Linked DNA regions of Homo sapiens: all the other regions are reported to be linked to region 3. The links are microRNA targets in miRTarBase. Many come from high-throughput screens and were not tested one by one. Region 3 holds a microRNA gene; each other region holds the end of a gene's coding sequence.

Region 1 (3,000 bases), not on the chromosome of region 3:
CTGTGCTTTTGCGAGTGGAGCAGGGGCAGTCTTAGCTTTGGAGGAAGCTCTGGACAAGCCCATCATCCCAACAAAAACCATTTTGTCCTTCTTAGAGCTTAGGACCTGGGGGACGCCCAACAAAAATCAGTGGCCCTCTTGACCCCAAGGAGCACATTTAATGACAAGATTTTTCTTATTTTATTTTTTTACTTTAATAGGACCAACATTTTCAGTGCCTCATAGAGGGACATTTCTGGCCATAAATTAGTTCAGAGTGATGCCTCTCTAGCGCCACCTCTGGCCTCTCTGGGCTCTTCCCTGGGGACTGATGCTGGACTAGATGAGCTTATTTTGGTTACGGAAATCTCTGGAAGGTGGGGAACCCCAAGAAAACACAATTCACACACTGTGGTACACAGGCTTACTTAAAACCATTTTTATTCTGCCTCTGAGCAACACTTTTCATTTGATTTGGGTAAAAGACCAGGGACCCAAACACGCACAAACAAAAAACAGGATGTCAGAAACAGAAATCAGGGTCCAATCTATTGGAATGATGCTAGAATCTCTGTGTGCTGAGATTTCGTGTCCCTGATTCAACGTCCTCCTGGGACAAGTGCTGGCTCATCACAACATCCGGGTAAAATGACAGGTTGAATCTGATGTTCATCAGAATTTTTTTTTTTTTTGCTAGGGTTCAGTATATGAAAAAATGCTGAAATTTGTATTGGTATAGTACTTAGAATTCTCCCCGCCAATGGTTAGTCACAACTATTACAACAATTAATTCTCATAACAGCACTGTGAGGTAAGTAGGCAGGCATTCTTATCCCCATTTTGCAGGTGAAGGAATTTTAGGCACAGAGAGGCTATGAAACTTGCCTAAAATCAGCTTGCATAGCTAGTTAGTGGCCAATAAAAACCCTGCAAAAACAAAAGGGCGTTGGAACTAGGTATTGACTCTCAGCCTCTTATTCATTCAATTAGAATAATCTGCCTTTCTTTTTTCTTTTTCTTTCGTTTTCTTTTCTTTTTTTTTTGAGATGGAGTCTTGCTCTGTCACCCCGGGCTGGAGTGTAGTGGCACAGTCTCAGCTCACGGCAACCTCCGCCTTCTGGATTCAAGTGATTCTCCTGCCTCAGCCTCTCTATTAGCTGGGATTACAGGCATGCACCACCACGCCTGGCTAATTTTTGTATTTTTAGTAGAGATGGAGTTTCACCATGTTGGTCAGGCTGGTCTCAAACTCCTGACCTTAAGTGATCTCAGCCTCTCAAATTGCTGGGATTACAGGCGTGAGCCACCACGCCCGGCCAGCATAATCTGCCTTTCTTTTGCTTCATTATCACCATCTTTCTGACATTAATTCTTTGAAGTGACTTTTGCCACATATACTTATCTGGTGTGTTAATTACTTGATATTTTCTTGAGTTCTCTTGTTTTTCTTAATTTATTTGAACAGAAACAATATGTCACATCCCCCACTGTGGGAAGCTGTAAATGGAAGGTAATAAATAAAATAAATACCATGACACAAAACAATATCATTAAATTCTATCTAGACAGAAGACTCTGAGGCCTGCTCTTTCTTTGCTAAAAAGGGAAAAGAGCCATAGTGTCTGAAAGGTGTAAAGGACCTGCTAGCACTAAACAGAGACTTTTTCCTTGCTGTAATCAGGATGAAAAAAGAATAGAAAAGGGGAAACATTCTTTGTGATTTGGTATTACTTAATGTTGTTCCTAGAAACTACTTAAAAATTATCTTGTGTACCACCAGTGGCACACCCCTTGTGCTCTGTGAGACACTGGGTTACTGCGTTCTGGCAGGCAGAATAATGGCATCATTAAACCAGTACATTCACATCTAAAGGGTTTACATTTGACAGAAAAGAAACACAATGGGTGGCATTTCCAGGTGGCATCCAGGAAAATCAAAGATCTTGCCTGAGACTTGCTAGAGATAGGAGAGAGAGTGAGAAATTGAAAAAAAAAAAGCACATTCTATAAATACAGCCAGTTTATTCCCAAAACTGGGATACAGGAAGTGCTCATGTACCTAGAATTGGCCACTAAGTCCATTCTCAGAGCCTGTTTGAGTGAAGAGTGAGGTTTTGGTCAAGTTGACCAACGTGGATGCAAGCAAGGGAGGGGGCCTATTTGGAAATATAAGCATCAAGACAAAAGGCCAGAAAAGCCCCTTCTTTGAGTGTTTGATGACCAGATGGGTGAACTCTGGGCATGGGAGTGCTGACTCCCAGAGGAGGAGTTACTGAAGGTTATAAGAATAAAAGGAAAAGCAAATCCACAACTTGAACTCTACTAGACAATTTTAAACATGCTGCAAATGTTTGTGCTCAACATTGTAAATACCAGCACCTGCTGCTCTTCCTAGAAACCTCCATCTCCCCCTATATGGAGACCCCCTGGATCCCCTCAGTGAAAAGTTATGTGATTTCCTGAGGCTCGCCTCTGGAGGACAGGAGTGGACACAACGGGATTCGCTAAACTGAGACAGTGAGACTTCATTTTTCTTTTTTCTGTTTTCTTTTCATTTTTACAAATCAATGACTTTGGCTGATCCGGCTGTGCAGCTTGGATTGCCTAAATTTTGGACTTTTTTTTTTTTTTTTTCTTGTTCATTTGCCAGGGACCTGCCTCTGGAGAGTCCTGGAGGAAAAGATCTCACAGTCTGAAGTCAAGGATCCATTCCTTAGAAACTCCTTTGGGGTGTGTGTGGATGAGGTCCATCCTCCACGCTCACAGCCCACTGACCGCTGGTTCCTCAGGCACTGTGTGGTACAGACAGAGAGAGAGAGAGAAAGACCGTGGGCTGAGCTTCTGTGGTTGGCTTTCCCAGCTCGATGCCTTCCTTATTTGATGATGATGACTCTGGTTAAACACATGTTGAAATGTACCAGCCTGCGTGCACACTTTTGACTCTAAGCAGGGGCTTCCTTTTGAGAAACATATTCTATTTGTAAAACTTATTTTATCTTACATGTGGTACGTGCAAAAAAA
Region 2 (3,000 bases), not on the chromosome of region 3:
CCAGGTCTGCCCAGAAACCAACCAGGTCCTCATCAACATTGGCCTGCTGCTCCTGGCCTTCCCGTCCCCCACTGAGGAGGGCCAGCTCCGGTGAGCGCGGGGATCCTGCCCTCTCTGTCCACTAGGGGGGCCACTGGCAGACACTTCACGGTGGGGGTGTGGGGACGTGAGAAGGCTCTCCCTGTGCCACAACCTGGCTGGGCCCCTCCATAGCTGTTCCAAAGACAAAAGGCCCTCAGGGTAGCCTGGGGCCTGGTTCAGGAGCCCGGCTGTCCCAGCGTTTGTCCTATGTCCCTCTCCACTGTAGACCAAAGACCTATCACACCAGCCTCAAGGTGGCATGGGACCTCAACACAGGGATCTTCGAGACAGTCAGTGTAGGCGACCTGACTGAGGTCAAAGGGCAGACCAGGTGAGGCAGGGCTGGGGGGCAGGGTCAGGGCGCGGCCAAGGCGACGAGAGCCACTCACCCCCTGGCCCCGCAGCGGCAGTGTCTGGAGCTCCTACCGCAAGAGCTGCGTGGACATGGTCATGAAGTGGCTGGTGCCGGAGAGCAGCGGCCGCTACGTCAACAGGATGACCAATGAGGCGCTGCACAAAGGTGGGGCTCGGTGACCCCGTGATGGTCAGGGTCACCAGGAACACTTGTCCTCACCCAGGAGCTGATTCCTGAGCGCTGATGAAATGGGTGGGAAGGCTGGTGAGGAGAGGGCAGCCCAGGCCAGGCCCAGCTCAGCAGCCCTGAAAGTGTGGGGCCTGGGAGCCTCCCACCAGTCATGGCCTGGCTGGTCACTCATTCACGCTACATTTATTGGGTAGCTGCAGGCTAGAGGTGGAGGGCAACTCAGCAGGGTCCCTGCCTTCTGGAACCTTCTGGGCCAGAAGCAAGTCAGGTGGAGGGTGTGGCCGCAGGGCCAGGCAGGCAGGGGCTCTATGCTTTGTCTCCACCTGTCCCTGTAGGGTGCTCCCTGAAGGTTCTGGCGGACAGCGAGCGATATACGTGGATCGTGCTGTGAGGGCCAGGCCGCCCCGGACACTGACTCCAACTACCTCCGTGGCCTGGGACCGGCCCCCTTCCTGGGGTGGCCTCTTCCTGGCCGGCTGGCCCACCGACTGATGACCGGCACTAGTGTTAGCCTGCGGAACGGGGCTGGGCAGGGCAGCCTCTGTTGGCCTGAGGGTCTGGACGCTTTTTATTTATGCCTATTTAAGTTGGGAAGGGGCAGAGAGAGGGCGCCCCCTGCCCCACCAGCCTGAGTGCCCCGCCTTCACCCCGAGCTGGGCATGGGCCTGGCCCCTCGTGCATTTGCCCTTTTCTCGGCTACAGCTGTGGACGTTGCCCTCGGGGAGGTCGAATGGACCCCATTCCCCCTGCCCTGCCCGCCCCCAGCCTCCCCACCCAGGCCGGCAACCTGGCCATCCCCATTCCGTTCTTCTTCATGTAATAAATGTTTTAATTTCTGAACCTCATTGAGGTCCTGTCACTGCAGCTTGGGGCCCAGCTGGAGCCCCCGCCCCAAGGCCCCCACCAAGGCCCGGCGAGTCAGCAGTAGGCAAATATCACAGCGGAATTTATTGTTTTAAGAAAGACTACAAAAAGGTAGAAAACAGCTCGGCACACTAGACTACCACACGTGTGGACACTTTCACCACCGGGAGAGGGAGCCCCGTGGGCACGGGGACTGGGCAGGGCCGCCCCAAAAGCTATAGCACGCGGAGCACACAAAATAGTGATTTTTATACAATAGGTCAGATTTCCATTTTTTTTTCCTTTTTCTTGCCATAAACATCTATCTCACAGGCTGAAAACACTGAGAAAACTGGAACAGATAAGGCCATGATGGTTGGAAAAAAACCCAACAAGTTACCAACTCCGCTCGGGCGGCGCTCACGAATCGCACAATAGTCATGGGGTGGGGGTCGCACGGCACGGAGGAGAAGCGTGGTCTCCGGGAAGATAGGGGCACAGAAAAGGTTCCATTACAAACCAGCGGCGGAGGGCGGGGGCGCGGGGGCTGGGGTCTGTGGGCACTCCCCGGCTCCGCGGCTCGCTGCTCTTTGGAAGCTGGAGGCCGTGCCCCCTGCCGCCCTCCTCACAGCCGGGCCGGGCAGTGCCCCCTTCTTGAGCTTGGGGGCAAGGGAGGGCCCAGCGCTGGAGAAGATGCGACACCCACGGCTTTAATTGCACTTAATACCAAGAAGGGGAAGCAGTGGGGTTGCTGGGGGTAGGGTGTCCCGGGGCTGCTGCTGACAGTGGGGAGTCCCCAGGTGACGCCCACCTGCGCCGGCCCGGGGCTCAGGGCTGGGCCCAGGACAGGCTGTGCAAAGCCAGCGAGCTGAATAAGTTAACAGTTTCGCACGGGAGGGGGCCTGCCTGCCTGCCCCCTGGGGTGGTGGGAGGACGGGGCTGGGGAGAAGACGCTGGGGCCTGGGAGGGGGGCGGCCAAGGGGCCGAGCTGGATGCCCCGCGGGGCACCTGGGCACGCGGCGGGTTCCTTAAGGCACGTCTTTTGTGTCAGAGTTTGCAGCTGCGGCTCCGCCCAGCCCACTGATTGTGCCGGCCCCATAAGGGAGGAGGGCCCCGGTCTTCCCTGTCTCGGAGTCCCCCTCCCTGCCCTGGCTGAGGCTGGAGCAGTGACCACGAAGCCACAGAAGCTTTGAGGGACCCTGGCGTGGAGGGGTGGCGGGGGCGGGTGGGGCGGGGAGGCCAAGGGCTTAGCTGGAGGGCAGCGCCTGCACGAAGAGGCCGCGCGCGTCAGTCCGCGCCAGCTTGGCCGGCGGCTCCAGGGTCTCCGGGCCCAGCGCGGGTGACTCGCCGCCAGCCGCCAGTGAGATGTCCTGCGGCAGCTCGTCCTCGCTCTCCTCCTCCTCTTCTTCCTCCTCGTCTGGAACACAGGGACCAAGTCCGGCTCGGGGCGGGGTGGCAACGCCCCCGGGCTCCTCCTCCTCCCGAGCCCCTCCGTTGTCCGCCACCCCCGGGACCCGCGCCCTGGGTGGGAA
Region 3 (4,016 bases):
TTAATGTTATTGAGTCCCTTTACCTCCTCATTCTCTTGAGAGCTATGTGCATAGAGAAAGCATACTTTCTGCTCTGCTATTTCAGACCCTACATTTTAGAGTACATTGTCTAATGTTGGAAATAAGGTAGGTAAGTCTCTCTAAATCTGAGATTCAGTGATAGTAAGGCGATCCTCCAAAATCAACTTTAACAATGATAAAATTGATAATTTCCTCTCTATCTATCTTACTCTGTTTTTCAATGACTCAGACTCAGCTGGAGAAGAGAGATGTTCCCTCTCTTGAGCTCACTAAAGACATTCAACAACATGTAATACAATGGGTGGGACATTTGTCTTTTCCAGGCCAAGGAAAAGGAAAACAAACTTAGGTCCCCAAAGACTTAGGATAAAATATCACAGATATAAACTTAGCAAAGTTGAACTCAGCTGTTAGAAAATGGAATTGGATTAGTTTCCTGTGGCTGCTATAACAAATCACCACAAACTCAATGGCTTAAAACCACATAAACTTATCCTCTCACAGTTCTAGGGGACAAAACTCCAAAATCAGTTTCACTAGGCCTACATCCAGGAGTTAGCCAGGCCATGCTCCCTCTGGGAACTCTAAGAGAGAATCTGGCCTTTCCTCTTCCTGCTCATGGGACTGCCAGCACTTCTTGGCTTGTGGCTGCATCACTCCCATCTGCCTCCCTGATCACATTGCCTTCTCCTCGTTGTCAGCTCTCCCTCTGCCTCTCTCTCATAAGGATATACGTGACTGCATCTAGGGCCCATTCTAATAAGCTGTGATAACCTCTTCATCACAATATCCTTAACTTAATCATACCTATAAAGACCTTAAATTTTTAATGTTTTAATTGTTTTTAATTTAAAAATGTCTTTTCTTAGGTTCCTACAGACAGAAACCTTTTTTCTGTATCAGGTAGTATTTACAGATTCTAAGGATTAGGACCTGACGTCCTCGGGGGACTATTTTTCCACATGAGTTCAATAGTCTTGAATAAATATCATTTATATCTCTTTTCTTCTTTTCTCTATGTTCTGAAATTTTACAATTTAAGATGCAAAAATATGTGGTCTAATATCATAGTTTTAGAGAATTAAGAAGGTAAATTCATCCTAGAGTTTGGATCAAACAAATAATATTTAGAAGGAATATATCATAAGGTGATAACTTTGTATGTCGGTATATATGTAAGTGTGGGTGTGTGTAAATCATTAAATTTCCATATATATACCATATAATTTTCTACCTGAAATGTTGTGAGTTAAATCAAAAAATGTAAATTATTCCTACATATCATTAATATTATAAATTCAGGACCATAGTTATTTATATATTTATTTTTAAAATTCTGGTTGAAGCATTTGGTGAAACAGTTCCAGAATTGAGTTTTTTATTCTTTCTATATGTGGAGCATATGGTAAAATTATTCCTATTTCTAATATGAGTTTGGTATTTTATTGTTAAACTCTAGAAAACAACCACCTTTTAGCCAAGAACCTTTGCCCTCTAAGACACACTCAATTGTATTTTACTTTTGCTACCAACATTTAGGGGTTAGTTTACTTTGTGTTATCATATTCCACCAATATTCAAAAGATTTATCACTTGGCAAGAGTTACTGATGACACTCCATGAGTAGGAAACCTCAAATCTTGGTGAAGGGCAGGCACTGAGCTTCTGCTAAGCACTCTCACTAGCTAAGAAACTTGTGCTACATACTACATGTGCCCTGTTTCAGTTAGGACAGGCTATGATATCGTAACAAATAGACCGCCAAATTCAGCTTCTCATGTTTGAGGGAAAAACACATCTATCTCTCTTTTGGACAACAGTCCAGGATGAGGGTTCCAGGTCAGTGGGAGCTCGGCTATATGCAGTGGACCAGGATGGCAAGGGCTCTCCTGAAAGGACAGTAGAGCCCTTGCCATCCTGGTCCACTGCATATAGTCTGCTCCATCTCAGGAAGCCAGAAGGTAGAAGGGGATGCAAAAACACAGCAGTGCAAGAGCTCTAGTATGTGGCCACACAGAATTGCAATGGAGACTGGGAAGTATAGTCTAGCTGTGTGCTCAGGAAGAAGAGGAGAAGGGATTTTGGTAAACAGCTGGCAGTCTTTGCTGCATGCATTATTTCTGCCTCAGCAAAATAAAAGTTGACTATGTAAAACAGAGGTCATGTGTGTAGAGGTCATTGTGTATACCCTTGGGATATACACAAGCATTCAAACCAATGAATAGTGAGAATTTATTCTACCCAAGCAACTATTTATGCCGAATATTCAGAAGGGGAGGGGAGCAGGAAAGAAATGGTTTATTTTCTTTAAATTATTGAAAATATTAGCTTATATCAATTTTCTCAAGTGATGAAAATGCAGGGGTTAAGCCTTTATTTTTTTTTTAAAGTAAATATTAGTATTATGTAGTATATGTTAAGAAGGTTTTTTTCTCTTCATTTCTTAATCTATTGAGGGAAGGACTAGGCAAATGAAGTTAGGCTTCTTTTCTCAGGGGGCCTAACTGTTGGCCCAGGCTGGGTTCCAAGAACTAATACAAGGAATGGTAACTGGTGGGGTTGTCTTTTTGCTGAATGAAGAGAAGAAAAGAAGAATTCCAAGTCTGTTTCCCAGGCACAGGAAGGACCAGGAAGCAAGGAAACTTCCAATTTTCAAGTCCACTGAGCAGAATACAAGAACAGGGTCCAAAACAAAGAGTTCTCCGTTGAGAACCGGCAAGATGGAGCAAGCAAGTCCTGCAGGCAGGCTGGGCCTGGAGAGGCGCCAAGAGGCCACAGCACTCTTGGGAGGAGGTTTTTCTGGACTCTTGAGGAGCTGAGACTTTTATATTCCAACCCTGCCTTTAATTTGAGGTTTGCCTCCTCCCTCCATTTGCAGAAGAGTAATCCGAAGCTAAATCATTCATAACATGAGAATGCTGATCTGTGTCCAGCCCTTGTGAAGGGAAAAGAAAACAAAACTTCACAAACATAATTAGTAGAACTACCTATAAAACCTAATGTTAAAAGAGAAATTAGCTTTCATGGAGAGAAAGTGTGATGGCATGACACAGAAATTAAGTGCACTGAATTTAGATTTGAAAAGAGTTTGATTCAATTCATGTCCCTGCTTCCCAGTAGTCCGTGACCTTGGGCAAGTGACCTATACTCTCTAAATCTTAGTTTCCTTATCTGTAAGATGGGAGATGAAAATAATACCTAATTCATATTTTTTAAGAACTTAATGAAAGAATGTTCAAATGTATCTAATAAGGTATAGGAACTCAACACATGCCAGTTAAACAAATTTCTAATAATTGACTTTCTTATTTCTTCCTTTCTGGGTAAAACAACTGTCCTTTGTATACTTTCATTTTTTGGAGACAGAGTCTCACTCTGTCTTTTTTTGGAGACAGAGACTCACTCTGTCATCCAGGCTGAAGTGCAGTGGTACGATCTCGGCTCACTACAACCTCTGCCTCCCAGTTTAAACAATTCTCCTGCCTCAGCCTCTCGAGTAGCTGGACTAGGACTACAGGCGGGAGCCATCATGCCTGGCTGGTTTTTTTTGTATCTAAGTAGAAATGGGGTTTCACCATGCTGCCCAGGCTGGTCTTGAACTCCTGAGCTCAGGCAATCCACCTGCTTCAGCCTCTCAAAGTGCTAGGATTACAGGCGTGAGCCACTGCACCCGGCCTGCCCCTTGTATACATAAAAAACAATCAATCAAATCTTCCTCCATGACCCCTTAAGCACTATTGAGTAAAGGTGGGATCTTAAGTTGTGACAACTGATATATGTAAAATGTCAATTTAAGAACATCTCCTTTCAGACATGAGTATTTCCCTGCAAACTTAGGTTTATGTCTAAGATCTTAAGGAAATAAATACTATAAAAAGACATAGTTCAAATAATGTATTAATAGAAAAAAGGTCCATAGGAATATCTCAGTGTTTTCTTTTATATGAGATGTATCATATGCTAAGAATATACAATTCTCTAGAATTTATTATTTT
Region 4 (3,821 bases), not on the chromosome of region 3:
AAGACACTGCACGCAGTTACCCACAGCAGAAAATGGCAACGCAAGATTCATCATCGACTGTCACAGTAAGCAGAGGGGGCACAAAAATGCTTGTCAAAGGCATGAACCAGAAGGCTAGTGAGGCTCGCAGGATGCCCTAGTGAATCGTACAGTGTAGAGCTGTGCTGCCCACGCCCGCCAGACACTTCCTGGGACAGCACAGAAGGAGAACAGGATGCTTCAAGGTGACAGTCATCCGGGTTCTGGTGCAGATCAACTTTCCACGTGTGCCATCTTGGACAAGTCATTATCTAGCTGGGCCTCACTCGAGGTATGATGGCGACTGACAGGCTCCACAAGGCTGAAAAGAACTAGCCATGTCTTCCATCTCAGCTCTGAGGGGGTGCGTACCAAAGGACCAAAGGAAGGGATTGGTCTTCACCCCCTTCCTGCTCAGGAAAGCCTTAGTTGTGCCCAATCTTTTCTCTGGGAGGGCTTTGCTACCCAAGACCCAGTTCCCAGGGTGCTCGCGGAAGCGCTGTCCTTCATTAACACGGGCAGCCAGAGCCCCCTAGAAGCGTCCTGGATCCCAGGTGCCCCTCGAGTTAAGACAGAACCCCCACCTACCCCAGGTTTACCAGGGGCGGGAACTAACCAGCACTTTTCAAAAAAGGTCAAGCCGAGGCATCGTCCAGCCAAACAGGCCATTGGTGACAGGAAACACACTCAGCCAGAAGCAGCTACACATGTGTGTTGTGTCTCTGAGTGCTGGGTCCCTCAGTGGCTCTCGACTGGCCCCAGAGCCGGGGAGGGTCCACAGGCAAGCCAGTTTATCCTTCTGTTTGTTGTTGTTGTTGTTGTTGTTGTTGTTGTTTTAATTTTTGCCAAGAAGCTGAGAAAAACAATGCTGAGGGATTGCTACACAACCAAGCTGGGAGAACCAAGGATGGTTCCTTCGCTCCTTTCCCATGACCACTGAGCACACGAGGCACTGAGGTGGACTCTTAGAGAGCACTCTGCAGACATCCATCAAGCAGGTTGAAAGCAAACCAAGAAGAACAAGCTAGAACAGGGGCAGGGGGAAAAAAGGAAAAAGCAAACCAAAACCCAGAAAAATCCGTGTTTACAAGTATGTACACAAAAAGTCAGGGTTCAGGAGGCCGTTTGCCAGGAAATAGGGTCTTTGTCGGTAGACAGTCAGTGTGGGGTAGGGGTGTGTGTGTGTGTGTGTGTGTGTGTATACACAGCTTATGTAAATCGACTCTCCACAGAACGGGTGTGTAGACCACCAAGATCACCAAAGTGCAACTTGCCACTGGGTCAAGTTTCCCATGGAGACAATTTGAGGGAGGGGCCCTGGGAAGTTCTGAGGCCTCGCAGAAAGCGTGCAGATGTGCACTATCAATTTTGGGGCCCCCTCATCTGAGGAAAACCATCTCCAGTCCCTTCAGTACACTTCTGATACATTCAATTCATATAAGTGGTTGGCTGAATGTGTGTTTTTTTCTACCACTCCTTCTGAAATGTTCAAGAACATCCATACATCCGTCACAACTGTGGCAAGGGTAGCTACACGAATCAGCCTTGGAAAATGCAGATGCAATATTTCACATTCGCCTTTTACAAGCTAGCAAATGTTACATAAATAAAGCCGAAAATAATATGACCCTCCCTTCCTCCAATCAATAAATACCTATGGTTACAATCAACTTACTCTAAATCATAAGATGTTACTACTAGTCTTCAAGAAGGAAAAAATAAGTCCTTGAGAAGCATTAGGTGCCTATCATAGCTACCTACCTCGCTGCCTCCTTCCCGGAGGCACCTCTGTTCCTATACAGAACAAACTGGAAATGCTACGGACGCTCTGCCTCATGCACTTCCAGTTTCACCTGGGGTAGCTCTTCTGACTCAGGCCATGCCCTCTCATTAGAGGGGAAAACAAAATACCACACAAAGCAAGAACCCCACACAAAAGCTGGGGAGGAAGGACCAGATACACTACAGCTTTTGCATGCAACAAGTACCTACCCACTGGACGTGCTGCACCTTCTGAGTCCTTTAGCACCTTGAGAGAAAGAGTTGCTACGTCTTTGAGGGCTGTCGGGAGAGGGTGGTGTGGCTGTGCACAGAAGCAGGGCTCAAACCCAGTGGCCCCTGGAAAAACCTTTCCCCTACCCTCTCCCCAGCTCTTCCAAGCTCTTCCGACTCCCCTGCTGGGGCTTCCTAACACTAAAATAGACTCTTTTTTCATCATCTCTCTATTTACATTAAAGATACAGACACATCACTATACACAAAAGGCTATGACAGTGAGCAGCAGAATCAGAAGAGAAGAAACCCAAACCCAGCCTGGCTCAGCGGTCATTCTGCCAATGGGAGGTGCTGCCTCTCTTCTTTGCTGTTAAAATCCTCTTGTTGATAGGGAGGGAAATTGTGTTCCTTGAGGTTGCTCGCCCCCAGATTTTGAAATCAGCCCTTCCTGGGGGTGGCCAAAAGGAAACAAGTTGTTTTATTATTATTTTTTAAAACACCGTTAGCATCCGGTTTAATTATTCTATAAAAACATAATGACTGGATCCAGAGACCACAGCCTCAGACTCATTGGCAAAATGATATTTGGTCTCGCATTTGCCGCCCTGGCTTCCTCTACCCATATAAAGTTTCTGGAAGGGATCTGAGTAGAGAGAACCCAGGACACGTAGTGGGCAGGCGAGTCTGTGACTCAGTAAGAACCGAAGGACGGTGTGGTGAGCAGAACACCCCCGAGAGTTAGTTGATGCAGTTGGAAGGGAGAAGTGCACTGAGCAGTGGCTCCTAAATCCATCCTGTGGCTCCGGGGAGGCAGAAGGAGGAACGAGGCTTGGACTCACTGGCCGTCCTCTGTTCTCAGTGGCTCCCAAGTATATACAATAGGAACTGCTAGGGTGTTCTACACCTTCCCCAAGACATCAGGGACAAAGTGGGGTGGAGTGAGATGGGGAAGGAGAAGAAGGTATAGAAGACTCCAAGGGTCTTCTTTAAAGGTACCCTGGTACTCAGTTAACAATTCCTCCCAGGCAGCTAGCTCCTGTGAGAGCCAAAGACAATGGAAAAGAGGAAGGGGGGGGGGGCGGAGGGAGGGAGGGAGAAGGAGGGGCTGGGAAGGCATTCAAGCAGCTGCAGTTTCCGGATATGTGTCCACATCTGTGTTCTGTCTTCTGAAAAAGAAAAATTTCCCCCCAAACCACACCCTGCCCCTGCATTGTCTGTTTGACACAAAGTTTCAGGACCCTGAAAAAAAGCCCCAAAGTGCTTCTTCATCACCTTGGGGAATACAGGGTACGTGGTGGTGGTCTCTGTATTTTCCGAAGCTGGGGGTAGGGAGTGGGCAGACTAGCAAGGTCAGCCTCAGGAGGCTAAAACCTCTGACCTTGCTGCAGTCTTCTTAGATGTCAGAAGAGAACCAGGTTTCCAGGCAGAGCACTGGGGCTTCGACACAAACTGTCAGAAAGGCTTGTCGGGCCTGCTGGTCTTGGCATCCCCGCTGGCTGCTTTGCAGATGACGCTGTTCGTGTGCTTGCAGCGGCAACCAGGGCGGCGCAGACGGTCGTAGCCACGCTGGGCCAGCTTCACGCAGCCGGTGGCAGGCAGGTAGCAGAGCAGGCAGGGCAGCACCACGGAGAGAGCACCCATGAAGGACCAGCGGGCGCAGCAGTTGGAGCGGGAGCAGGAGCAGGGGTGGTCAGCGCAGGAGCCCTCATCGTCCTCATTCGTGCAGTGGTAGAAGATGCCCTGCACCAAACACATGCACGTGCCATAGTTGACCAGAGTCTGGGCTGAGCACAGGCACTCCTGGTTGC

The links. Region 3 holds the annotated microRNA hsa-miR-4776-3p (CUUGCCAUCCUGGUCCACUGCAU, at 1,930-1,952, shown strand). A microRNA usually pairs through its seed, bases 2 to 8, with sites in the 3' UTR of a target mRNA and lowers its output. Matches are read on the target gene's strand: a 7mer-m8 pairs with bases 2 to 8, a 7mer-A1 pairs with bases 2 to 7 and ends in A, and an 8mer does both.
Region 1: miRTarBase lists TMEM233 as a target of hsa-miR-4776-3p. Seed matches in the 3' UTR shown: 7mer-A1 at 2,622-2,628 and 7mer-A1 at 1,364-1,370.
Region 2: miRTarBase lists RFX1 as a target of hsa-miR-4776-3p. Seed matches in the 3' UTR shown: 7mer-m8 at 1,778-1,784.
Region 4: miRTarBase lists SPRY4 as a target of hsa-miR-4776-3p. Seed matches in the 3' UTR shown: 7mer-A1 at 1,143-1,149 and 7mer-A1 at 860-866.

The regions. Positions count from the first base shown.
Region 1 is chr12:119,640,470-119,643,469 of GRCh38, reverse strand. TMEM233 (transmembrane protein 233) reads right to left here. Exons shown (of 3, transcript NM_001136534.3): 3 at 395-2,771. The coding sequence ends at 2,765. The region is part of intron 1 of PRKAB1-AS1 (PRKAB1, TMEM233 and CCDC60 antisense RNA 1); the gene reads left to right. Among named protein-coding and RNA genes, the nearest start is that of PRKAB1-AS1, 26 kb to the left of the region's middle.
Region 2 is chr19:13,959,980-13,962,979 of GRCh38, forward strand. It overlaps RFX1 (regulatory factor X1), which reads right to left. Exons shown (of 21, transcript NM_002918.5): 21 at 1,551-2,885. The coding sequence ends at 2,716. It overlaps DCAF15 (DDB1 and CUL4 associated factor 15), which reads left to right. Exons shown (of 13, transcript NM_138353.4): 10 at 5-90; 11 at 308-412; 12 at 486-601; 13 at 961-1,470. The coding sequence ends at 1,016. Among named protein-coding and RNA genes, the nearest start is that of DCAF15, 9.0 kb to the left of the region's middle. RefSeq lists an enhancer at 1-185.
Region 3 is chr2:212,924,381-212,928,396 of GRCh38, forward strand. MIR4776-1 (microRNA 4776-1) reads left to right here and starts at 1,877; the gene lies at 1,877-1,956. MIR4776-2 (microRNA 4776-2) reads right to left here and starts at 1,956; the gene lies at 1,877-1,956.
Region 4 is chr5:142,310,744-142,314,564 of GRCh38, forward strand. It overlaps SPRY4 (sprouty RTK signaling antagonist 4), which reads right to left. Exons shown (of 2, transcript NM_001127496.3): 2 at 1-3,821. The coding sequence ends at 3,466. Among named protein-coding and RNA genes, the nearest start is that of SPRY4-IT1, 5.7 kb to the right of the region's middle. RefSeq lists an enhancer at 175-676.